Linked DNA regions of Homo sapiens. The protein of the gene in region 2 purifies or fractionates together with the protein of the main gene of each other region. This does not show direct contact. Each region holds a gene or a part of one and is shown on either strand. Other genes may lie near its edges.

Evidence for each region.
Region 1: the proteins of CSNK2A2 (region 2) and YAF2 purify together in Homo sapiens (affinity purification with mass spectrometry; 11 studies listed by BioGRID and IntAct, with this or other methods). This does not show direct contact.
Region 3: the proteins of CSNK2A2 (region 2) and ZNF687 purify together in Homo sapiens (affinity purification with mass spectrometry; 8 studies listed by BioGRID and IntAct, with this or other methods). This does not show direct contact.

The regions. Positions count from the first base shown.
Region 1 is NC_000012.12:42,234,770-42,242,706, forward strand, and holds the start of YAF2 (YY1-associated factor 2), read right to left. Parts: upstream 3,480-7,937; 5' UTR 3,412-3,479; coding exon 3,386-3,411; intron 2,967-3,385; exon of another isoform or gene 2,956-2,966; coding exon 2,830-2,955; intron 2,802-2,829; exon of another isoform or gene 2,664-2,801; coding exon of another isoform or gene 2,647-2,663; intron 1,229-2,646; coding exon of another isoform or gene 1,027-1,228; exon of another isoform or gene 1-1,026. UniProt on the Homo sapiens protein: Binds to MYC and inhibits MYC-mediated transactivation. Also binds to MYCN and enhances MYCN-dependent transcriptional activation. Increases calpain 2-mediated proteolysis of YY1 in vitro.
Region 2 is NC_000016.10:58,195,107-58,203,289, reverse strand, and holds the start of CSNK2A2 (casein kinase II subunit alpha'), read left to right. Parts: upstream 1-5,183; 5' UTR 5,184-5,553; coding exon 5,554-5,657; intron 5,658-6,381; exon of another isoform or gene 6,382-6,445; coding exon 6,446-6,557; intron 6,558-8,183.
Region 3 is NC_000001.11:151,277,925-151,285,777, forward strand, and holds the start of ZNF687 (zinc finger protein 687), read left to right. Parts: upstream 1-4,374; 5' UTR 4,375-4,471; exon of another isoform or gene 4,472-4,486; intron 4,487-4,608; exon of another isoform or gene 4,609-4,635; coding exon of another isoform or gene 4,636-4,658; intron 4,659-5,263; coding exon of another isoform or gene 5,264-5,394; intron 5,395-7,281; exon of another isoform or gene 7,282-7,853. UniProt on the Homo sapiens protein: May be involved in transcriptional regulation.

The DNA.
Region 1 (7,937 bases), on a different chromosome or scaffold from region 2:
TTGAGCTCAAGAGTTTGAGACTAGCCTAGGCAACATAGAGATCCCCCATCTCTACAAAAAATAAGAAAATTAGCCACACATGGTGGTGTGCATCTGTAGTTTCAGCTACTTGGGAGGCTGAGGTGGGAGGATTCCTTGAACCTGGGAGTTCGAGGCTGCAGTGAGCCTGGATGATGCCACTGCAACCCAGCCTGGGCAACAGAATGAGATCTTATCTCAAAAAAGAAAAAAGAAAAAAAGAAGACTTCAAAGGTAGAACAAGGACTCAATCTTCTCTGCAGGTCTAAAAAGAAAAAAGTTTTTCAAATGTCTAGAATGGCTTAGACTTGGCCTAACATTTGGCAATGAGGCAGAATCAGTTCAAAGGTCAGTCTGACCCAAAGGATTCAAATCCCATCTGTGCGTCACACAAACAAATCATTAGCAAACTGCATCCTTCTGCTCTGCAGCTATCCAGTCTTGGCTTTAGTACTTGCCAACCTTACTCTGGAAATTACCCTGTTCATTAATAAGTCAATTATGGAGAATTATTTCTTCCAACTACTGAAACTTTTGCTTCTCAACACCGTTCTGCAGTCCTTTAATCTTGTTTTTTTAACATTACCAGAGAGGAAAAATATTAATATTCTGTGATGCAATCAATATCTTCTCTAGTAACAATACCCTGTTCCACACTGTTCTATACAAACACAGATTCTACCCTGAATTTCAGAAACCACTAGGAAAATAACAGATAACAGAGAAATTAGAGCTCTTAGGTTTAACTTAGAGCCAAAATCAAAAGAGAAGAGAATTCAGAGAGAGGAAGGAAGAAGCTGAGAGGGTCGTGGTGTAGAACACTTACTTTCAGGAACACAGTGTCCCTTAGATTTCTGGTGAGTTGCCCAGAGCCTCTTCAGTTTCAATCCAAATGACAATGCTTCTCTGAGTCCTCCTCAAGTAATGTTTCCACCACTAAAAATTGGATCTACAAGAGCTTAGATGTACTGGTAAAAAAAAAAAATGTCAGGGGCCCCCATGTGGGCCTCAAGCCTCTTTTAAACTAGGCCCACTTCTCTGTCCTGGGCCAACTCCCCTGTGTACTATATTCCTTCTTCTTCCAGGTGCCAGGTATTCAGCCTGTTTCTTCTCTTCTGAGCTGCCACCACCTACTCTATTTCTCAGGGTTCCTCTAACCCCAAGACTGGCTGTGGAGTAGGACACCAGCTTCCCCCCTTCCTTGCTGTCCCTGCAAATAAACATATAGGCTCTTCTAGTTTCAGTATTTTTCTAATGGCTACAAGAAAATAGAGAGGGAACAACAAAAAGCAATAATATATAGTACCAGAGATCAAGATTATAATTGTTTCCACTTTAATGTTCCTGCCTCCAAAAAACGAATTTTCTAAAAATTGCTTATTGAGCATTTTAAAAAGCACAAAGTACTAACACAGATACACAAATATACTCTAAACCAACTCCAACCTTACACAGCCAAGAAGATACTCTGCTTTTCAAAATACTTAAATCACAAATCACGGGTCCAAAAATAGTAACCACAATCATTTTAGCAAATACTTTTTTTCTTTTTGGAATGTTCTGTTGTAATCCCTTAAATTTAGCATACGTTTGAAAGTTTGCTTTTTGAATATGAAAAATGTACGAAATATTTTATCAATTGTGGGAATATACAAAAAGCATATGATGATTTACAAAAAACAAGCATGTCAAAACCAGCGAGCTTCACTGAGAAATTTTTCAGATAAGTTACTGTCAACCATTCCTGTCTCTAAATTTTAAACTTAATAAAATTCTGTAAAGTGTTTTTTAAAAAATCAAGATCTCATTTTTTAGAAATCTAACGTCTACTGAATATTTGTATATGTCAATATTACATGTGCCTTCTTTTTTAAAGCAACAGTAAGATTAGTATGCTTATTGTTATAGTTTAGTTTCTAATGGACTTTGTAATATCAAAATACATATCTTCTCTAAATATTAAGTAATAAATCACAGGATTATATTTAATTCAAAGGGTACCTTCGTATAAGAATCAAGGAGCTCGATAACTAAGTGCTGACAGATTAAGAATGCCACTGACTGAATTTCCTGGATGATTTTCTTTATTCACTTAATTCAAAGTCATTTTTTAAAAGACAGAGTTATTATACTGCAAGCTTACAATAAATAAAGTCTGAAAATAGGCAGAGATCTTTTCATCTCATTTGTCTAAGAGACTGCCATTTAATCAAACTAAAGATATAAAGGTACTTTCAGTAAAAATCTGTTCCTGTGACTGGGCTCATCTCCAACTACTTATTTATAAAATATTAGAGTACTGGAATAAAAACACTAAATAAAACCTTGATCTGACCCTTCCAGAAGTACATGTAGAAAAATAAGTTTTAATATATTGTGTATTCTGCAATCAGATACTTTTCTTTCTTTAGGAACGAAATTAAATTACATCCTTTGCTCCTAAAGAGATTTTATGGGTTTTCCTTGATCCCCACACACTAACACAACAATGCAGCCAACATTTTTATACCCAGAATGGGGAGAGGGGCATTACACCCAGCGATACGAATTAAATCGCAGTAGCTAATGCCTCCCTTAAATAATTTATTCTCTCTTGGCAGCAAAAAACGTTACAGCCTCTTCAATTACCCCTCACCGCAAACCATCGCCTGGGTTGCGATCAATGTGACCCAGTTCCTATCGCCACAGCCACCTCCGTCTGCCTCCTCCCGCCGGGTCCGCCAGTGTCATGGGAGGGGGCGGCAGCCGCAAGGGCGTCCTCTGGTCGCCACCCCGCCGGCCGGCGGCGCGAGGGGCAGGCCCGGGACTCACCGGGTGGAGGTGCCCTTCCGCACATCGCACATCATGCACTTGAAGGCCTCGGCGCTGTTCCGGAAGGTGCAGACGCTACAGTCCCAGTAACCCTCATCCGAGGACGGCTTCGGCTGCCGCTTCGGCCTGCAGGACACAACCCGGACACGACGCGGCGCGGGGTCACCAGCAGGCCGCGCCCGGTGCCCGGGCCCCGCGGCCGCCCCCGCCCCGCCCCCCGCCCCAATTCTGCGACCCCCGCCCCGCGGGCCCTCGGCGCGCCGCGCTCCGGCTGAGGGGGAAGGGAGTCAGGAAGAGGCAGGGCGCGAGCGCGGCCGCAGTCGCCGCCGCCACAGCCGCTCTGACACCCGGGCGGCCGCTCCGGTCGCCGCCGCCATCGCGGCTCCATTGTGGGGCGGCCGGCGCCGGCCCCCTCAAGCGGCAGCACTCGCACACCAGCGGCGCTGCCCCCGTGCTCGCCCCGGTGCCCGGGCGGCTAGCGAGGCGGCCACCCGAAGCCCTGCACGAGGGCCCTGCCGCCCGCACAGTCCGGGCCCCGGGGCCCGGGCGCTGTTACCTGGTGGGGCTCTTCTTGTCTCCCATGGCTTGGCTATCACCGCACGCCGAGAGTCGCCGCCGCGACCGCTCTGTTTGTCAATAAGGAGGATAATAAGCCGGGCGGAAGCGGGCGGGGGAGGAGGGAGGGAGGGGGCGGGGAAGGCCGCACCGCCGCGCTCGGGAGCCGCCGCCGGATCCCACGCAGCCTCCAGCTGTCGGGGAAACTCCTGCCTGGGCGCACGTGACCCTCGCCGGCCAACCAGCAGCCGCGCCGGAGACTTCAAACGCGGCCAGCGCGGCCCAGCACCCGCGGCGAGTTAGCCGGCGGGCGGTGCGGGGGTGGCCGCGGTGGCCGCGGCTGCCTCGGGCGCCGGCGCCGCCTCTCCGCGCTGTTCCCCCGTTGCCCCCTTGGTACCCCCGGCTGCCGGGGACTGCCTCGCGCTCCAGAGCCCCTCTGAGGAGGAAAACGTCTGTCCCACCGACTGGCAGGGGATGCTCCGTCATCCCGTGCGAAGCCTGGTCCAAGGTAGGGCCGGCCGGCGTTCGGAGGCCTGTCCAGGTCTGGACAGAAGTGCCAGCCCGGGATCTCCAGGTAGAACGACTTTCCTGGCCTCCGCTGTCCTTAGCTACCCAGCCCCCGCCTGCAGTATACCGGGGGGAAGGCGGGAACCAACACGCAGCGCCATTGCTACATGCCTTAAAGCACTGTCTGGTTTATGCACACAGATGCTCTAACAAGTAGGGATTGTCAACCCTAACTTAGAGGAATTGAAATCAAGACTCAAGAGAGATTAGGTGACTTCCTCTAGGCTATATAATTAGAAAATGACAAAGCCAAGAGTCTAACTCTGTTTTAATTCCAAACGCGCCCTTTTGGCCTCTCAGGCCTCTGCAGTAGCTGCTTTTGAAAGAAACCCCTATATACTCATAAGTCCTTTTTAAATATAAGGAGTTTGCATGTCCCCTCAACGCTGTCTGCTAACAAAAGAACACCTTCCCAGGTCTCTACGTCAACATACTAAAGGTCCTCATACTCCAGACTCCAGCAACAGCCATCTAACTGGTCTCCGAAGCTCCACTTCTACCTCCCCAATGTATTCAGTAATCCACAACCAGATTAATAATAAAATGCTGTTAATACTATGCCACCACTCTGATAAAGAACCACTAACGACTTGCCCACACTCCTTAGCCTGGCATTCAAAGGCTTCACACATTTTCCCTACCTCTGCCTCCCTCTCCCATAAGGAAAGCTGCCTCCTGACAAAGAGTGCAGATGAAATTCATTCCCTTACCAGAACCCTTCCTTCATGCACATGGGTTACTTCTGCATAAAGTATATCCCTCTTTAACTGTGCTGTTTCTGTCCATCTTTCTAGGTTTACATCAAGTCCGAATTCATGTAAAATAATTTTATAGCTAAACTACATAGGAAATAATACAGTCAGAAGCCCAGGATTCTCAGCCTGCTTCTCCTGTTTCTTAGCTGATAGACCTTGGAAGTATTGCTTAATTTCTGTAATTCTCAACGTTTTCATATTCTGAATTGCATCTATATGAGATTGTTGTGCGATTAATAATAACATTTTTTGGCCGGTTGCGGTCGCTCACGCATGTAATCCCAGCACTTTGGGAGGCCGAGGCGGGCGGATCACCTGAGGTCAGGAGTTCACAAGACCAGCCTGGCCAACGTGGCGAAACCCCATCTCTATTAAAAAATACAAAAATTAGCCAGCTGTGGTGGCGGGCGCCTGTAATCTCAGCTACTCGGGAGGCTGAGGTAGGAGAATCGCTGGAATCCGAGAGTGAGAGGTTGCTGTGAGCCGAGATCGTGCCACTGCACTCGAGCTTGGGCGACAGAGCGAGACTCCGCCTCTAAGTAAATAAATAAATAACATTTTTTTGAGCACTATGTGCCAGGCACTTTGTAAATCCCTGCGCATAGATGCATATTTTAAAGGACTCAAAGTACTATGCACATGGCCTCATCGACTGCAGATGCTCTTCGATTTAGAAAGGGGATACTTCCCGATAAATCCACCTTAAATAGAAAATATTGTAAATTGAAAATGCATTTGGTACACCGATAAATCCATCGTAAAGTAGAAAAATCGTAAGTCGAGCCATTGTAAATCCGTAGTCTAGCCCTTCTTTTTAAAGACAAGGCAATTAGGGCCCAGGTTAAATGGTTTTTCTTTGATGAGCAGGCCAGGGTTAGAGCTCAGGTATCCTATTGGTCTTTCACCGCATCTTCTTTCTGATTAACCAAATCACTCCATTTACATAGCAGTCTCTAAACTCGTTGTACCATCTGTACTTTTTGCAAATGTAGCTTCTCATGATTCAGACCCAAATTCGGAAACCAGGAACCATGAGGAGTATGATTGAGGCACGTATACAAGAGAACCAGATTTAAGGCCTAGTCTTTAACCTCTCAGTAATGCAGTGGGTAAACTCAGCTAAGTTTTTTTCATATGTAAAATAAAGGAGTTAAAACTATTATCACAACTAAGGTCCCTTGCAAGTCTAAGGCATTGTGATGTTTTTAAATGCCTCAACTGGATGGATCCTCAAATAGACTGACAAGAACTGCTCTACTTGCAAAAGTGATGGCAACAATGTATTTTTAAATAAAAAGGAAACTAAATCAAGCACTCTAAAAATCCCCCATGCTGCAAATCACCATTTCACTAGATTGTAACCTCCCTCACTAAAAAGTAAGCCGCACCTCTGAATCATGAACAAAAAGCACAATAACTTTTGTTGCCTTTATTGCTGCATCTCCAGCCCCTAGAACAGTGTGACACATAGTGGGCACTCAATAAATATTCTGAGAATAAATACATCCACTTATAGTCAGGTTAGCGCGCGCCTGTATTCCCAGCTACTTGGGAGGCTGAGGCAGGAAGATAACTTGGGCCCCGGAGTTCCAGACCAGCCTGAGCAACAAAGCCAAGACCCTGTTTCTAAACTAAATAATCAATACATTCACTTGTGTTACAATTGTTGAATGAGATTTTTTTCTTTCATATTGGGATTTACAAACTGTTAGGCATATTGCATGCAGTGGATGGTCAATAAATGCCAGAATTAACATTTATCCTTCAAAATGAACTTTACAACTCCACACATCCTTGTCGATGAACCAGGAACCTAGTTTTTGTGGAGCACAGAATCATATGCCCTTGCACTATACCAACTGCCTCCCATTTATGGGTGTTTCTCTTAAAAAAAAATCTCTGCCCCTACTAGGCTTACGTGGAGACAGTAGTACAGGAGGTACTCCTCCCATTTCACCACAAAAAGTCACACCTTTCCTAAAGTGTTTACTAGCTGTAAGAGTGGCTGTTGTGGAGAAAACAGATCTTTTTATTACTAAAGTGGCCCAGGTTCTTACCCAATCAGGTGTCTTTTCAATACAGTAACAGAGTTCAGTACTTTAGAAATGTTAATTCATTACGGTCACTTGTAAAGTGACAAACACTAACGATCGTTTTAACAATTTAACAAGTGTTGAAGTTTTCTGATGATTTACTTTTTTTGTTGTTTGTTTGTTTTTTTGTGTGTTTGTTTGTTTTTTTGTTTTTGTGTGTGTGTGTGAGAGAGTCTCACTCTAGTGCCTGGGCTGTAGTACAGTGGTGTGATCATAGGTCACTAAAGCCTTGAACTCCTGGGCTCCAGCGATTCTCCTGCCTCAGCCTCCTGAAGTGTTGGGATTCCAGGCATGAGCCACTGTGCCTGGCCTTACCTTAATGTTTAAAAGGTAAATGAGGGCAGACCAGTGGCTCATGCCTGTAATCCCAATACTTTGGGAGGCCGAGGTGGGCAGATATCTTGAGCTCAGGAGTTCAACAATAGCCTGGGCCATATGGGGAAACCCTGTCTCTACAAAAAATACAAAAATTAGCCGGGTGTGGTGGCATGCACCTGTAGTCCCAGCTACTTGGGAGGCTGAGGTGGGAGGATCACTTGAATCCAGGAAGCAGAGGTTGCAGTGAGCCAAGATCACACCACTGCACTCTATCCTGGGTGACAGAATGAGGCTCTGTCTCACAAAAAAAAAAAAAAAAAAAAAAAAAAAGTAAAGCAATCTTTACTTTCCCCAGTTACTGAGGAAGCTGAGAGCTGAGGCAGGAAGGATCACTTGAACCCAGGAGCTGTGGGCTGTAGTGTGCTATACTATTCGAGTGTCTGCACTAAGTTCGCCATCAATATGGTGACTTCCCAAGAGTGAGGGGCCACCAGGTTGCCTAAGGAGGGGTGAACTGGCCCAAGTCAGAAACTGAGCAGGTCAAAACTCCCGTGCAGCGCTGGGCGCAGTAGCTTACACCTGTAATCCCAGCACTTTGGGAGGCTGAGGCAGGCGGATCACCTGAGGTCAGGAGTTCAAGACTAGCCTGGCCAACATGGCGAAACCCCATCTCTACTAAAAAATACAAAAATTATCCAGGCGTGGTGGCACGTGCCTGTAATCCCAGCTACTCGGGAGGCTGAGGCAGGGAGAATTGCTTGAACCTGGGAGGCAGAGGTTGCAGTGAGCTGAGATTGCGCCATTGCACTCCAGCCTGAAT
Region 2 (8,183 bases):
TCAGCATCCCAAAGTGCTGGGATTACAGGCATGAGCCACTGTGCCCGGCCATAAGTGTGTATCTTTGAGGTGGGTGAAGGATGTTATTCTGCTTACCACAATTACTTGTACAACTTTTCTTTTTGGGACGGAGTTTCGCTCTTGTTGCCCAGGCTGGAGTGCAATGGTGCAATCTCAGCTCACTGCAACCTCTGCCTCCCAGGCTCAAGTGATTCTTCTGCCTCAGCCTCCCAAGTAGCTGGGGTTACAGGCGTGCTTCCACCATGCCCAGCTAATTTTTTGTATTTTTAATAGAGATGGGGTTTCACCATTTTGGCCTCAGGTGATCCACCCATCTCGGCCTCCCAAAGTGCTGGGATTACAGGCGTGAACCACCACACCTGGCCACAAATTTTTAACACGTATTTATTTATTTATCTATTTATTTTTGGAGATAGGAGCTTGCTCTGTGATTCAGGCTGGAGTGCAATGGCATGACCATAGCTTACTGCAGCCTCGAACTCCTGGGCTCAAACAATCCATCTGTTTCAGCCTCCTGAGTAGCTAAGGCTTGCACCAACATGCCCAGCTAATTTTTTAAATTTTATTGTAGAGTTGGGGTCTCTCAGTGTTGCCCAGGCTGATTTCAAACTCCTGGCCTCAAGAGATCCTTCCACCTCGGCCTCCCAAAGTGCTGGGATTACAGGCGTGAACCACCATACCCAGCTCTCCTATTTAAAAATCTTGTGTCCTAAAATTTGTCCATTGCTAAAAATTCCTCATAATCATGCTTTTTAGTAACGCCTAATAGTTTCACTGTAGGGAATGTATCACAATTTATTTAGCTGGTCCCCCAGCTTGTGATATTTACATCACTTTACATTTTCATGATTAAAGATAATGATTATCATGCGGAACGTCTGTGGGCCTTTGCATGACATACTGAATCAGAAAGGGGTTAAGGAAAGTGACGTGGTGGTCAGAAAGATCAGAGTTCAAATCCAGGCTCTGCCTCAGTTGGTCATTGTCATTGGAGTCTTGGTTTCCTCCTCCGCACAAAGGGGACCCTTACAAGAGCTCCAACCTTATAGATTTCTAAAAACAGCTATGTTGAGATAAAATTCACATAACATAAATCCACCCATTTAAAGTCTAAATTCAATGGTTTTTAGCCATGTACGGTTTTGGCGGGATTCAATGATGTAGAATCATTATGTGTGTGATGAACACACAAATTGCCATCATGATCAATAATTCTTTGTTCATAATTTTCATTATTTTGTTAGGCTAGGTTCTTGAGAAGTATCGATGCAGGATAAAAGCCTATAAACTTCTCAAATGTTTTGAAAGTAGGCTTGTGAAGATAGGTGGCCTTCAGTGGGATTTTAAAATGTGCTTTTGTTTTTTGGATTTTTGGTGTTTGGATAGAATTTGGGGGCATTGGAGGTGGTATGAAAGTGTTGGGTTATTTGATTCAAAATACCCTCTTTCATTCCCTTGTGTTGCACCACTGAATTATACTCACCCTCAAACTGCACACACAGAGTAATGAGGGGAAGTCACTTCTAATTCACGGACCCTCCCTGCCTGGCACCTCCCCCGCAGAGTCACCACCCTATCCCTCTTCATATCCAAGTGAGACTCCTTCGGTGAGGGTTGCATGAGTACCATTTCCAATTGCCCACCTTAACTCAAGCCACGCCAGTTTCATGGCGGGTGGGCAGAAATGAGAGGCAGGGGTCTCTGCCAATTCCATGGGGTGCCCACCCAACCTCCCAACAAACCACAGAAATATTCCATTTGGCTGTGGGTGGACTGACTGCAGGTTTTAGGGCTGAGTTAGTATGGTGTCAGCCAAATCCAGGAGTGTGTTGCACCAGAGTGGTGTGTGGGTGAATCCTCAGGCATCCCGCAGGTGTGGGATCAGGTTACGTGAGATGGGTGTGGGCTATGTGGTGAGGGATGAGAGGAAGGTGCACGGAGGGTGGGTGGGGTCAGAGGTGGGCGAGGGTGGAGGTGAGGAATGAGGCCCCAGCTGAGGTTGGACATAGTAGTTAAACCAGTGGTTTGGAATCATTTTTGGGTCATGGCCTCCTTTGAGAATCTGATGTATGCTAAGGAAAGAATGGACACACACACACACGCACATGCACACACACACACACACACACAAACCCACAAATTCTGCATATTGTGTCAGGGGTTCCCAGAACTGGGGAAATTCATCCAAGGACTGGCATTAAGAATCTCTGGTCTGGTCTAGTTCACAGGGACTTGTCAGAAACAAATCCTAAAGCTGCATTAAGAGCTTGAGGATATTTATGTCTTCTAGAGTGAAAGAGATTTAGAAAGGTTTGCAGGTTCAGGAATTAAATTCCAAAGTCCACTTTTTCCATTAATTTTTTTTTCTAGTTTTTATTTTGAAAATTTTCAAATTCTACCAAAAAATTGCAAGCTCATGTACTGTTCAACTACATTCACTAATTATCAAAATTTTCCCCCAATTCCTCCCCACTCTATGCATGCTTATGCTCTCAGAAACCCACATTTTCCTGGAGAACAATTTGAGACTAAGTTGCAAATATTGATTCTTCATCTCTACACACTTGGCATGTAACTCCTAAAATTATGGGATTCTCCTGCATAACTAAATACAATGATCATACTCACAAACTTTAACATTGATACAATATAACGTTGTGTAATATACATTAACATTGTGTAATATACATCCTATATTCAAATTTCCCCTGCAGTAACCTTCTATTAGGTTGGTGCAAAAGTAACTGCGGTTTTCGCCATTACTTTCAATTGAATTTCAATAACTTTTGCACCAGCCCAATATGAGCTGTATTCTTTCTCTTTCCCTCCTTTCCTTTCTACTTTAAAAAAAAATCCAGACTCTAATTCAGAATCATACACTTCATCTAATTATGTCTCTAAGTCTTCAGTAACAAGAATACGAATCTAGGGTTTCGTTTGGTTTTCTTTCTCCTAGTGACATTGACTTTTTGAAGAACTCAGGCTAGCTGTTTGGCAGAATGTCGCCCAGCTTGGATTTGTCTGATGGTGTCCTTATCATTAGATTCAGGTTAAATGTTTTGGCAGGAGGACCACATGGGGGAGGTGTCCCTTCTCAGTGCATCACATCAGAGGATCAGTTGGTTCCCTACTGATGAGAAGTTTGGACCATGGGTAAGGTGGTGACCTCGTTTCCCCTTGGTAATTCCTAAGTCATCTGTGGGGTAGCACTGTATTTACTGAAGGTCTCTGACTGTGGCAAATGCTGGGAGAGTCAGTGGTGAGCGCCCACACTCTGTCCTTGCTCTTGTGCTGTTTTTACAAAGGAGGGGACAGACAATAACCCAGGAAACAAATAATGACAAGATATGCAGTTTGATGAAGGACGTGGATAGGGTGCTGAGATAGAGAAGTATCAACTCTAGAGAAAGTGATCTTTAAGCTGAGACTTGAGCTGGAGGCATGCCTGTAGTCCCAACTCCTCAGGAGGCTGGGGTGGGAAGATCGTTTGAGCCCAGGAGTTCTGGGCTGTAGTGTGCAATGCCAATCAGGTGTCCACACTAAGTTTGGCATCAACTATGATGACCTCCTGGGGCTGGAGGACCACCAGGTTGCCAGGTGGCAAACAGCAGGTCAAAACTCCTGTTCGGATCAGTAGTGGGATCATGCCTGTGAATAGCCACTGCACTCCAGCCTGGGCAATATAGAGACACCCTATTTCTAAAAAAATACTACTAATAAAGAAAAAGGTGAAATTTGAATAGGAAAAAGGAGACACCCTTGGGAAGGTGGGGTGGAGGGGTTGGGGGTGGCTCCTAGTTAAGCTTGGAGGATAGAAGGAACCAAAAGACGGATGCACGGTGGTCTCAGGGAGGGAGGAATGAGCAGAGAAAGGCCCTAGGCCTGGAAATAATCATATTGAACACATGCTATCCTAATAGTGAACACCATCCTAAGTGTTTCACATGGTTTACCTTGTTTAATTCTCCTTGCAGCCCTGTGAAGTGAGCGTTATTACTGGTTTTATGCTGTAGAATCTGTGACACAGAGAGGTTGAGTAATTGCCCTAAGGTCACACAGCTTCTAAGTAGCAGTGCTGGATAGATCTGACTCCACAGACTGTGCTCTTAGCTGTGTCAAGCAGGAAGGCCCAGGGTTTCATCCAGAAAACAGAATGTGAAAAGGGACTGGAATGAAAGCAACCTGTACTGGGTGCAGAGGTGCTGTCGATAAAGGATGAGGGATGGGAAAGGAAGACAGAAGAAAGGCCTAGAAGATCAAAGGAGAAGGGTGTTCAAGGCTGCAGGCAGCACTGGAAGCCAGGCCAGCTCAGTTGACCACCTACTCTGGGCACATCCCCAACCCAGCCTGTCCCTTCAGGTCGGATTTGCAATTCTCCTGCTCTCCCTCCTCCTAAACACAAACAGGAGATTTACACTCTCAAAGTCTCTCCCCACAAATGACTTATTAATCACAAAGGGAAAAATTGTAACTTTGCAGTGGCACAACCTGGTCAATGCCAGCTTAACCAAGTGACCAAAGTGGATATTCAGGGAAGGCTCTGGAAGGGCATTTGGGGGAAGTGTAGAAAGGTTTTGTGAGGAGCACTCTGAATGACGGGGGTAGGAAGCCTTGGGGACTGAGGAGTCTACCCTAACAGGGCAGGGTCCAGAGGGGGAAGGAGGGGTATGTCTCGGGGGAAGGGAGAAGTATTGAGGTGGGGGAGGTTCTGAGGTTTGAGTGAGGCCCTGGGGAGGGACTTGACAGTTTGGGTGACAGGAGGGTCAGAATAGGGTCAGTATGGGATGTGTTGGGTGGGTAAAAGCTGGGTGAGTGCAGGGCTGGGGATAGGGTCTCCAAGGACAGTGAAAGGGTCGGGAGTCGCGGGCGAGGGCTCTAGGGCAACGGCCAGTGGAAGGGGGGGCTCCTGTGGCGTGAAGTCAAGCCAGCCCGAGGGTGAGGCGATTTGGACAGTCCGACCTGTGGCGGCGGGAGGGCGAGGGTGGCGGAGGGCGCGAGGTAGGCGGCGGGGCGTGCCGGGGCGGGGCCGGGGCGGGGCCGGCACCGCCCGGCGGGTCCCCCCGCGCTCCAGGGGGCGCTGTGAGCCTGGGCGGCCCCAGGCCGGGCGGCGGCCGCTCCCAGTGAGCGCGGCCCCTTTTCCGGGTTTCCTCCGCCTCCTCCTCCTCTCCTCCTTCTTCTCCGCTGCCGCCGCCGCTGCCCCTTTCCCGGCCGGTGGCTGCCGCTGCCGGTGCCGCCGCCGCCGCCTCCTGGGGGCCGCGAGCCGAGCGGAGACCGCCGCGGAGCGCGAGCGCCGCCCGCCCCGCCGCCCCGCCGGCCGCTCCAGGGCCGGGCCGGCTCGGCCGGCGCCCCCCGCGCCCCCAGCCCGCCCGCCCCCGCGGGCCCGGCCTGGCGCGGCCGCCCGCCGCCGCGCTCCTCCTCCTCCTCCTCCAGCGCCCGGCGGCCCGCTGCCTCCTCCGCCCGACGCCCCGCGTCCCCCGCCGCGCCGCCGCCGCCACCCTCTGCGCCCCGCGCCGCCCCCCGGTCCCGCCCGCCATGCCCGGCCCGGCCGCGGGCAGCAGGGCCCGGGTCTACGCCGAGGTGAACAGTCTGAGGAGCCGCGAGTACTGGGACTACGAGGCTCACGTCCCGAGCTGGGGGTAAAGCCGTCGCCGCCCCCCGCCGGGCCCGCTGATCCCTGCCCCCGCCCGGCCACCCCCTGCGAACCGCACTCGGGCCCGGTGGTGTCTCCCGCCGACCCCTCCGCGGGCCCGCAGGGAGGCAGAGGTCCCGCTCTCGCACATGTCCTCGTCTTCCTCTTCCCTCCCCTTTACCCCCGTTTCGTCCCTTTCTCCCCGCTTTGCGCACCCCTTTCCCCCAAGGAATGCTTTTTTACTCGGGGAGAAGTGTGGGGTCCAGGGATCGACGCCGGGTGGAAGTGAGGGAGCTGCCCTTCCTCACACTTCTGGGTTTCCACTGGGGTGGGAAGTCAACAGCTGTCCTTTGGAGCTATTAAAATGCCCTGCCTTTTAGGTTTTCTGAGATGAGGTGGTGGGAGGAAATTTCTTAAAGACGTCCAGATTTTTAAAACAGGCATTGTCTACCTTGAAGATGTGAAACGAGAAGCAGGTGCTGGGGAGCCGCGGGGCACAGGGGGCACCCTCTAGGCCTTCAGGACGGGTGCTTTGCTCGCCCCTCTGGATTGGCTCAGAGCGTTGCCTTCCTGCCCCATCTTCCCAAGTTAGGAGAGACCAATTAGGTTAGGAGCTCTGCAGAGTGAAGGGAGCCAAGATTATGTCGTGGCTTTCATTTAGGGAATGAGTTGTGACGTGATGTATAGACACTTCCAAGTGTTTGCCTGGTGGAAGCGGCTGAATGACGTGTACAGTGGGCATAGGCTTGGTTAACCCCCAGTCCTGGCATTTATGTGTGTGTCTTCCTTTTACAGTAATCAAGATGATTACCAACTGGTTCGAAAACTTGGTCGGGGAAAATATAGTGAAGTATTTGAGGCCATTAATATCACCAACAATGAGAGAGTGGTTGTAAAAATCCTGAAGGTGAGTGTCCTATGAGTGGTATGTAACATTTTCCTCCCCACAGGGCAAAAGTTTGTAAGGTACCCCAGTCACATTCTATAATGGGCAATGCAAGCTTGAATTTAATTTAATTTATTTGTTTAGAGTCAGAGTCTCACTCTGTCACCCAGGCTGGAGTGCAGATCATAGTTCACTGCAGCCTTCAACTCCTGGGCTCCAGTGATCCATCTCAGCCTCCCAAGTAGCTGGGACTACAGGTGCATGCCACCACGCCCAGCTATTTTTAAAATTTTTTTGTAGAGTCAGGGTCTGGTCATGTTGCCCAGGCTGGTCTTAAGCTCCTGAGCTCAAGCAGTCCTCCAAAAGGACTCCTTGCAGGCCTCCTATAGTTGCTGGGATTAGAGGCGTGAGCCACTGTGCCCAGCCGACGCTCAAATTTTATTTATCTGATGTCCCTTCATTACTTCTTTTTCCACCCCATTTTCCCATGAACTTTCAAGAAAATGTGCAGACATCACAAATCTAAGTTCAGTAAAGTGTTTGTTCTAAAATGTAAATTCCCTAAAGCAAAAATTCCAAAAGGGCTCCGTTTGTTAGAAAATAAATAGGTAATCAAAAGACAGAAAAGCCACTCTCAATTTAAGGGCTCCCTGAGCACTGTGTTTGTTACTCTTGGTGCATGCTGTATGTTATTCCAGAAAGAAAGTTGGAAAAAATTGGAGCGACTTCAGAAATGTATTTCAAGCCCAAGTGGAAGGAAATTCCTTAGCGGATAATCACTTGTTTTTTTCCTTTGGCAGTAAAGTTTCAGGTGGTATGGATACAGTGCACCAGTAGTGCTGAGAAGCCTTGTTGGGAAGCCAGAGAGCCATTGTTGCTTATAAGCTAGTAAAAATATAGAAGAGTTCATGTATAATTACTAAAGTAATAATTGGAACAAAACTATCTTAATATATGGTTTAGCAATGAATTTGATAATGATATGACGTTATCTCTTTGATGAAGATGATTTTAATTAGCATGAAGGGTCGGCTAAATTTTCCTTCTGGTAACTGATTGTGTAGCTTTAATAATGTTTTATAGGGTATAGTAAAAAGTAGTTCTTAGAATCTGTGATGGGTCCTCGTTATTGCCGGATCATTTCATGTGGATACAAGTCATTTAGTGAGAGATTGAGAAGACCGAAGAGTGATGTAAGCACTTTGCATACATGTGATTTCCATTGTGGCCCTTTTGCAGAGGTTCTGTGGACTAGAAAAGCTGTGGTATAGAAAAGCTGTTTCTGTGTGCTAGGGCAGCTGGTATAGGTAATCCCTGTTTAATGTGAGGGGTCAGGCTTATGCTTTCTGGTAATCATCTTTCAGAAAAAATGATTAACTCCATCACTCAAAACATCCTAGCCTAGTGATAAAGGAGCAGAATTGCAGTAAAGAGAAAAAGCAAAGTTATTTGTGTTCTCAGACACACTGGGGCTGAGAAGTGAGGAACTGATGTTGAAGATACTGAGTGTGACTCCTCTCTTCCCTAAATATGAATTGCATTTATGAAGTCACAAGGTGGTTTTTTTTTTTTTTAAGTCACAGGAAAATTACCTTAGAAAGCCATACATTAGCTTTATGTACATAAGCATAAGTTTTCAATAAGCTG
Region 3 (7,853 bases), on a different chromosome or scaffold from region 2:
CTCACTCCCTCATCTCTTTCAGACCTTTACTTAACCACCATCTTCTCGAAAAGGCCTTTACTGTCCACCCTACCTAAAATTGCAACCCTCCCACACTTACTGTCATCTTTCCTTGCTTTTGTTTTTGTTTTTTTGAGACAGAGTCTTGCTCTGTCACCCAGGCTGGAGTGTGGTGGTGCGATCTCGGCTCAATGCAACTTCTGCCTCCCGGGTTCAAGCGATTCTCCTGCCTCAGCCTCCCAAGTAGCTGGGACTATAGGCGTGTGCCACCATGACCAGCTAATTTTTTGTATTTTTAGTAGAGACAGGGTTTCACCATGTTAGCCAGAATGGTCTTGATCTCCTGACCTCATGGTCCACCCGCCTCGGCCTCCCAAAGTGCTGGGATTACAGGCATGAGCCACTGCGCCCAGCCGCCTGCTTTGTTTTTTTTTTTAAATTGTTTTTGTTTTTAAATTAATACACTTTATTTTTTACAGCATTTTTAGGTTTACAGAAAAATTGAGCACAAAATGCGAGTTCCCACACATCCTCTCTCTCCAGTTTCCCCTATTATTATTATTATTTTGAGACAAGGTCTTGGTCTTTTGCCCAGGCTGGGGTGTAGTGGTGTGATTACAGCTCACTGCAACCTTGACCTCCAGGGCTCAGGTGATTCTCCCTCCTCAGCCTCCCAAGTAGCTGGGACCACAGGTGTGCACCACCATGCCACGCTACTTAAAAAAAAGTTTTTTTGTAGAGATGGGGTCTCTCCATGTTGCTCAGGTTACTCTATTATTTATTAATATCTCGCATTAGTGTGGTACATTTGTTACAATTGATGAACCAATATGGAAACATTATTATTAAGAGACAGGGTCTCACTTTGTTGCCCAGGCTGGAGTGCGGCAGCAGGATCGTAGCTCACTGCAGCCTCAAACTTCTGGGCTCAAGGGACTCTCCTGCTTCAGCCACTTGAGTAGTTGGGACTACAGGTGTGCGCCACTGTACGCGGCTAATTTTTCAAATTTTTTGTTGATCCTCCCGCTTTGGCCTCCCAAAGTTCAGGGATTACATGTGTGAGCCACCATGCTCACAGGGTTCACTCTTTGTGTTGTACATTCCATGGCTGTTGACACATGTATCCACTATTACAGTATCACATAGAATAGTTTCAGTGTTGTAAGAGTCCCCTGTGCTCCATTTATTTATTCATCTCTCTCCCTCCACCTGAACCCTCAGCAACCAACCACTGATCTTTTTACTCTCTATAGTTTTGCCTTTTCTAGAATGTCACATAGCTGGAATCATACAGCATGCAACCTTTTCAGATTGGCTTCTTTCACTTAGTCATATGCATCGAAGATTCCTCTGTCTTTGCATGGCTTGATAACTCTATTTTATTCCTTGGCAGCTACCATTTCTAATATTTATTGTTTGTCTTCTCTTTAGGAATGTGTGTTTCATGACAGGGCTTCTTGTCTGCTTTGTTCATTGCTACATCTCCAGTACCTGAAATAGTACCTCCTTCCATGGTTGTGGTAAGGACTACGTGAGTTATTAATAATATGTTTATTAATAAAATAAATAAAGTTTTTCTGTGTGTGTGTGTTTTTTTTTTTTTTTTTTTTGAGACAGAGTCTCGCTCTGTCTCCCAGGTTGGAGTGCAGTGGTGCGATCCCGGCTCACTGTAGTTTTGACTTCCTGGACTCAAGCGATCCTTCCATCCCAGCCTCCCCAGTAGCTGGGATCACAGGTGCCTGCCAACACCCCTGGCTAATTTTTTTTTCCAAATATTCTGTAGAGGCAGAGTCCTGCTGTGTTGCACAGGCTAGTCTCGAACTCCAGGGCTCAAGTGAGCTACCCACCTAGACTTCTCAAAGTGCTGGGATTACAGGCGTGAGCCCCCCAAAATATTATGTGTATATGAGTAGTAATTGTTATTCCGCATAGGGAGACCAGAAGAGGAGGTGGAAATGGAATGCCGGTTGGTTACATCGGGTTAGGGACCTTTAATTAGTTGCTCAGAGAAGGAACAGCACCTGAGCAAATGCACAGGATGCAAGGCTCCGGGAGAAAGGGCACACTAATCCCAACTGCCAATTACTTTACAAAGCGTGTTTACATTCTAAACTCATTTAATTCTCACAAAAATAATATTGTCAGGTGGGTATTATAATCCCCGTTTTACTCATGAGAAAACAGGATCTGGGAGGTTGAGCGACTTGCCCATTGCGACCATAGGGCAAGTGGTGGCTCCAGGATTCCCATCCAGAAGTTCTGATTCATACTTCAAAGGAGCTCGGAAACTCTCCGGGTGCGCCGGGGAGTCCTGGTTCCGGTGTCCTGGGACTCCTGGGCAGGGTAACGAAACCACTTTTAAAAACTTTGCCGGGCCCGGTGGGTCACATCTGTAATCCCAGCACTTTGGGAGGCCAAGGCGGATGGATGATTTGAGGTCAGGAGTTCGAGACCAGCCTGGCCAATGCGGTGAAACCCCGTCTCTACTAAAAATACAAAAATGGCCGGCCGCGGTGGCTCATGCCTGTAATCCCAGCACTTTGGGAGGCCGAGGCGGGCGGATCACGAGGTCAGGAGATCAAGACTATCCTGGCTAACACGGTGAAACCCCGTCTCTACTAAAAACACAAAAAATTAGCCGGGCATTGTGGAGAGCGCCTGCAGTCCCAGCTACTCGGGAGGCTGAGGCAGGAGAATGGCGTGAACCCGGGAGGCGGAGCTTGCAGTGAGCCGAGATCGCGCCACTGCACTCCAGCCTGGGCGACACAGCGAGACTCCGTCTCAAAAAAAAAAAAAAAAGAAAAAAACAAAAATTAGCCGGGCGGGTAGTGTCGCACACCTGTAATCCCAGCTGGTCGGAAGGCTGAGGCAGGAGAATTGCTTGAGCCTGGGAGACGGAGGTTGCCGTGAGCCGAGATCCCGCCACTGCACTCCAGTCTGGACGACAGAATGAGGCCCCGTTTCAAAAAATAAAAAATAAAAAACTTCGCCAAGGTAGGGAGTAGTGGCTCACGTCTGTAGGATTGCTTGAGACCAGCCTGGGCAACATGGCAAAACCCTGTCTCTTCAAAAAATAAAAAAGTTAGCAGGGCGATTTGGCGCTCACTTGTAGTCCCAGCTACTCAGGAGGCTGAGGCGGGAGGATCACTGGAGCCTGGGAGGTTGAGGCTGCAGTCAGCCGTGATCGCGCCACTGTGCTCCCGCCTGGGCAGCAGAGTGAGGCTCTGCCTCAAAAAAATTAATTAAAAAATAAAAACACGCCGTTAACGAGCGGCTGCGTGCGCGAGGTGGCACACTGGGCTTGCATACGAATTCTGCCAGTGAGTGCTATTAGAGCATCAAGGAGATTCATTTTCCGAGCGACTCCTCCCTTTCCCCCGCCTCCAGGGGGCGTGGCAACAAAGCGCGGGAAAACTCGACCTTGACCCCACCCCCACTCCATGCTGGGGGCGGGGAAAAGGGGAGCCCTTAAATGGGAAATGGAGCTGGCGGTTCCCCCCCCAGCCCATACTTAGGACGCCTATCAGTTGCTCCTTTAATGCCTCTTTGGAAATGGCCCGGCCACGCCAGCACTCCTACGTCACCTCCCCCGCTTCCGGTCCGCGAGCCCTTCCCAACCTTTAGGTCCCGATTCCTTCCATGCTCCAAATCCCGTGCCCCGTCCACGCCCTCCCGCAGAGGGAGGAGCGACGGGTTACGCTGTCGCCCAGGAGCTGAACCGCGCGAGGACCCCATCCATCAGATTATATGGCGATTTAGACGGTGGGAAGACCGCAAGGAAATGGTCAGCGGATGACGTAATGTTTGGGGTGGCGTCCCATTCTGTAACTTCTGTACGGCATCAGTGACACGGGTTTAGCTTGAAACAGCGCAAAAGGACCTACACTTCTGTGCTCCACTCCGACTCAATGCGGTTCTGCTCTCAGTGCCCACCACACAGAAGCTGGGTTCCTTACATTCGCGAAAGTGAACTGCAGCTTCAAGCTTCGAGCGGCCAGTAGGGAGCGAGGGGCGGAGACGCACCTGGGTGCTCCCCCTTCCAGTAGGCAAGCTGGGAAGCAGGCTGGCTTCTTTCTAAGCGACAGTGGCGGAGGCCAATCGTTTACGAGACTCGTAGATGGGGCAGACGGACCCCGGCGCAGCCAATGGGGAGAGGTATCTTCAGAGGGCCTCGGCCCCTTGCCCAATGAGCATAAGAGGACTGTGCGGGGCTAGTTCCGAGCGGCAGTATTTAGGGCCAACCCAGTGCGGGGCTGGAAGGGGCACAGGGCTGAGCGACGGGGGCAAGGGCCAATGGCGAGTGCGAAAACGGGCAGCCCAGACCTGGAGCGCGGAGGGAGGAGAGGGAGTGGGGAGGCCGAACCGGAGAGAAGCAGGAAGTAGCGGCGGCCGCGGGGAGGGCGGCGGTGGCTGCAGCGGCTGGAGCGGGGTAGAGACCGCCGGGTCTCGGCCCGCACCAGGAGCGGAACAAGTAAGCGTGCCTGGGGTAAATACCCGCCCTTGGCTCCGCCCCCTTGGGGGGGGCGGGTAAATACCCCCGCCCCTCCCCCACTTGGTCAACTACCCCCTTCTCCGCGCCGCCCCCTGGGGCGGCTTCTAGGAAGGCCCAGACACCGCCTCCATCCATTGGGGCGGATGGGCGAAACTCCTGGCCTGTTGTAAGCACAGTCCGTAGCCGGGTAAACCCCCAGGAGGGTCGAGAACCCCAGGTCCTGGCGCCCCCGGCTCGAGAGGCACCCGAAGTGCGGCCCGGAGATTGAAGGCTGCGGGATGTCGCGACCTAAAATGGTGTCCGTTCCCGGGGATGGGGGCGGGGGACCTGGGCCAGGCCGGAGCAGAACCTGCACCCCGACTGGGTGCGGGTCAGCGTCCGGGCCCGGGCAAGACTCAGGCTTGCGCCCCCGGCCCCCTGCGCACCCCCCGATCAGTCTCCAGTCTCTAGCGAGCCTCCGGGAGTGCGCGGCGGGAGGAGGCTCCGCTGCGCCCGGAGGGGAGGGGACGAGGTCCGAGTTGGGACGGACCCCAGCTAGAGAGCTGAGAGTCGCGCAGAGACCGTCCCCTCTCTCCTCCCCTCTTTCCAGCTCCCCACCCTATCCTGTGTAGTCCTGGGTCCCCAGGTGCTGCGCAGCAGCTCCCAAAGGGCCTGGCCTGGCTGAGGCCCGGCCTTCGCTTCGCACGCCGGTGCGAGTGAGAGAAGGGCCGCGCGCCTCAGTTTCCCTTGTAGTTTCTCATGTGTACACCCCGCCCCCTCCTCGAAACCCAGGACTTGCTCCCCGCGCCAGCCCTCGGCAGATGGCAGGGACTTAATTCCGTCTGCTACCCAGCTTGGCCTCAACCTAATCGCCGCCAGCCCCTCGCCCTCCTCTGCGCTGCAGGCCTTGGGCCCGGGCAAAGGTCAGTGGAGCCCCCACTCGACCTGGGCCTGTTCAGCCTCTTCCTGTTCAGCCTCTTTGGCTTTTGGGGAACCACAGAGGGAAAGGGGGCGGGGGAGATAGGAGCCCTAGAGACAGGGCTCAGCAGTCGCAGGAAGGCCTGATCCTCCTTGGCTTGAGCTTGGCGGCTTGCTTGGTCGACTGTCTGCTCTGGGTGGGTGGCCATCGGATGACCTCTAAGTCACTGGGGCACCCAAGAGGGAGGTGGCTGGCGGGGTGTGGGGGCGGGTGAGTTCGCAGGTGTTTTCTCCTAGTCCCCGCTGGTCTTCGTTGTAGCAGTCCACTTTTCTGAGTACCTGAGTGGAAGGTAGCTCAGGCCTCTGGTCAGGAGGGAACCAGGCTTAGGAGCCAGGCCTATAGAGACAAGGGTTTTTGTTTAAACCCAGATTCTGCAGAATTGAATAGGGTGGGGGTGAGGGGAGGACTCCCCCTTTGGTTTTGCCCCCACCCCAACCTTGGTCCCAGCAATCCCAGCTGCCACTTGCTGGGACTGTCTCTAGTTACAGTCTGAAGACTGGAGAGAGGTGGGAGAGCTGGCTGGGAAATGGCCTGCAACCTGGGCAGGGAATGGATAGGGATAGACTCTTTAGTTGCTTCTTCGTAGATACAGAAACACTCATGGGGAGACACTGGTAGGGGACAGACCTGGGTCTCCCACAAACTCTGAGCTGGCCTGCTTGTTGGATTAGTGCCACATAATTCTTGTGGGATTTTTAATTTTATTTTTTGCACTTGGCCAGGTTGAGGCTAGGTGAAACTTCCTGGGCTACTGTTGCCACAGGAAAATGGAAAGGGTGAGGAGTTAAAGTTAGGGGATGGAATGGGGTGAGGAGCTTGGAGCAGAAATGATGGGTGAGGGTTGAGGGAGCCTGGCTTTTTCCCACTGTGGCAGCTGTGCTGGAGAAATGTGTATGTATCTTGGGAGTTTTAGCCTCGGGAAAGCAAGATGGGGAGGGGTGGAGAAGGAAGGGCTGGCTAGGGGAGGGCCAGGCACTCTGGGGAAGGTAGTGAGCGAGCAGCAGGTGTTTGTGACAGGAGAGGTCTAGGCTGGGGCCCTTGTGACCAGGCTGCCATCACCATTTTCCCCTCTGTCTCTTCTCTTTGTCTCTTTCTGTTCCTGTGTCTTATTCTTTCCATCTTGGTCTCTTGGGTAATTTCCTTGAGTCCTTTTCTCCCTGCTGACCAAGCTAGATCTCCAGGTGCCAGTGATGGCCCAGGTGCCCTAGACTTGATCCTGCATGACCCCTGACTCTTGCCTCCGACCCCAGCCCTAGAGTTCCAGTGCTTATTCCTTTCCAGTTCCTCCTTGACCTGACATGTCCTTGCTTGGTTCATCTGGAATAGTAAATCGTATTCTTGGTGGGATTCTTACATTAGCAATTTTGTATTATGCTCAGAATAACCCTATGATACATAGATCACTTGTGCTCTCTGCCTTGTCTTGTCTTTTTTTTTTTTTTTTTTTTTTTTTTTGAGACGGTATCACTCTGTCACCCAGGCTGGAGTGCAGTGGCATGATCATGGCCCATCACAGCCTCGACCTCCCGGGCTCAGGGGATCCTCCCATGTCAGCTGGGAGGCATAGCTGGGACTACAGGCACGTGCCATCATGCCTGGGGAGTTTCACCATGTTGCCCAGGGTGGTCTTGAACTCCTGGGCCCAAGTGATTGGCCTCCCAAAGTGCTGGGATTACAGATGTGAGCCACCACACCCGGCCATTTGTGTCCTCTTTCAAACAGCAAAAGTAAGGCACTGAAGAAACTTGCTTGTACTGCACGCCCCTGATAAAGCTGAACGAGGATCATTTCTTAAGTCTTGGCTTATGGCATTGTCCCTTTGTACATGCAGCCTTTCAGATCTGTGTGGACCCCAGAAGATCCGTGAAGAATATGAATTGATTCCATGCGGACATGAATGAGTCCTTAAACCTAGAACATCATGTACATCATCCTCCTTAATAATAGTATTGATTATTTGGTTCTATGCTGGGGACCGGAGGGGATGAGATGGTTTCCACCAGAATGCTCACTGAGCTCTATTACCCTTCCCTGTTCCCTGTATTTTTTTTTTTTTTCTGAGACAGTCTTGCTCTGTCGCCCAGGTGGGAGTGCAGTGGCACGATCTCAGCTCACTGCAAACTCCACCTCCCAGGTTCAAGCAATTCTTCTGCCTCAGCCTCCCGAGTAGCTGGGACTACAGGTGTGTGCTGCCATGCCCAGCTAATTTTTGTATTTTTAGTAGAGACGGGGTTTCACTATCTTGGCCAGGATGGTCTTGATCTCCTGACCTCGTGATCCGCCCGCCTCTGCCTCCCCAAGTGCTGGGATTACAGGCGTGAGCCACCATGCCCAGCCCCCTATATTTCTTTTTTTTGAGACAGGGTCTCGCTCTGTCCAGGCTGGAGTGCAGTGGCGTGATCT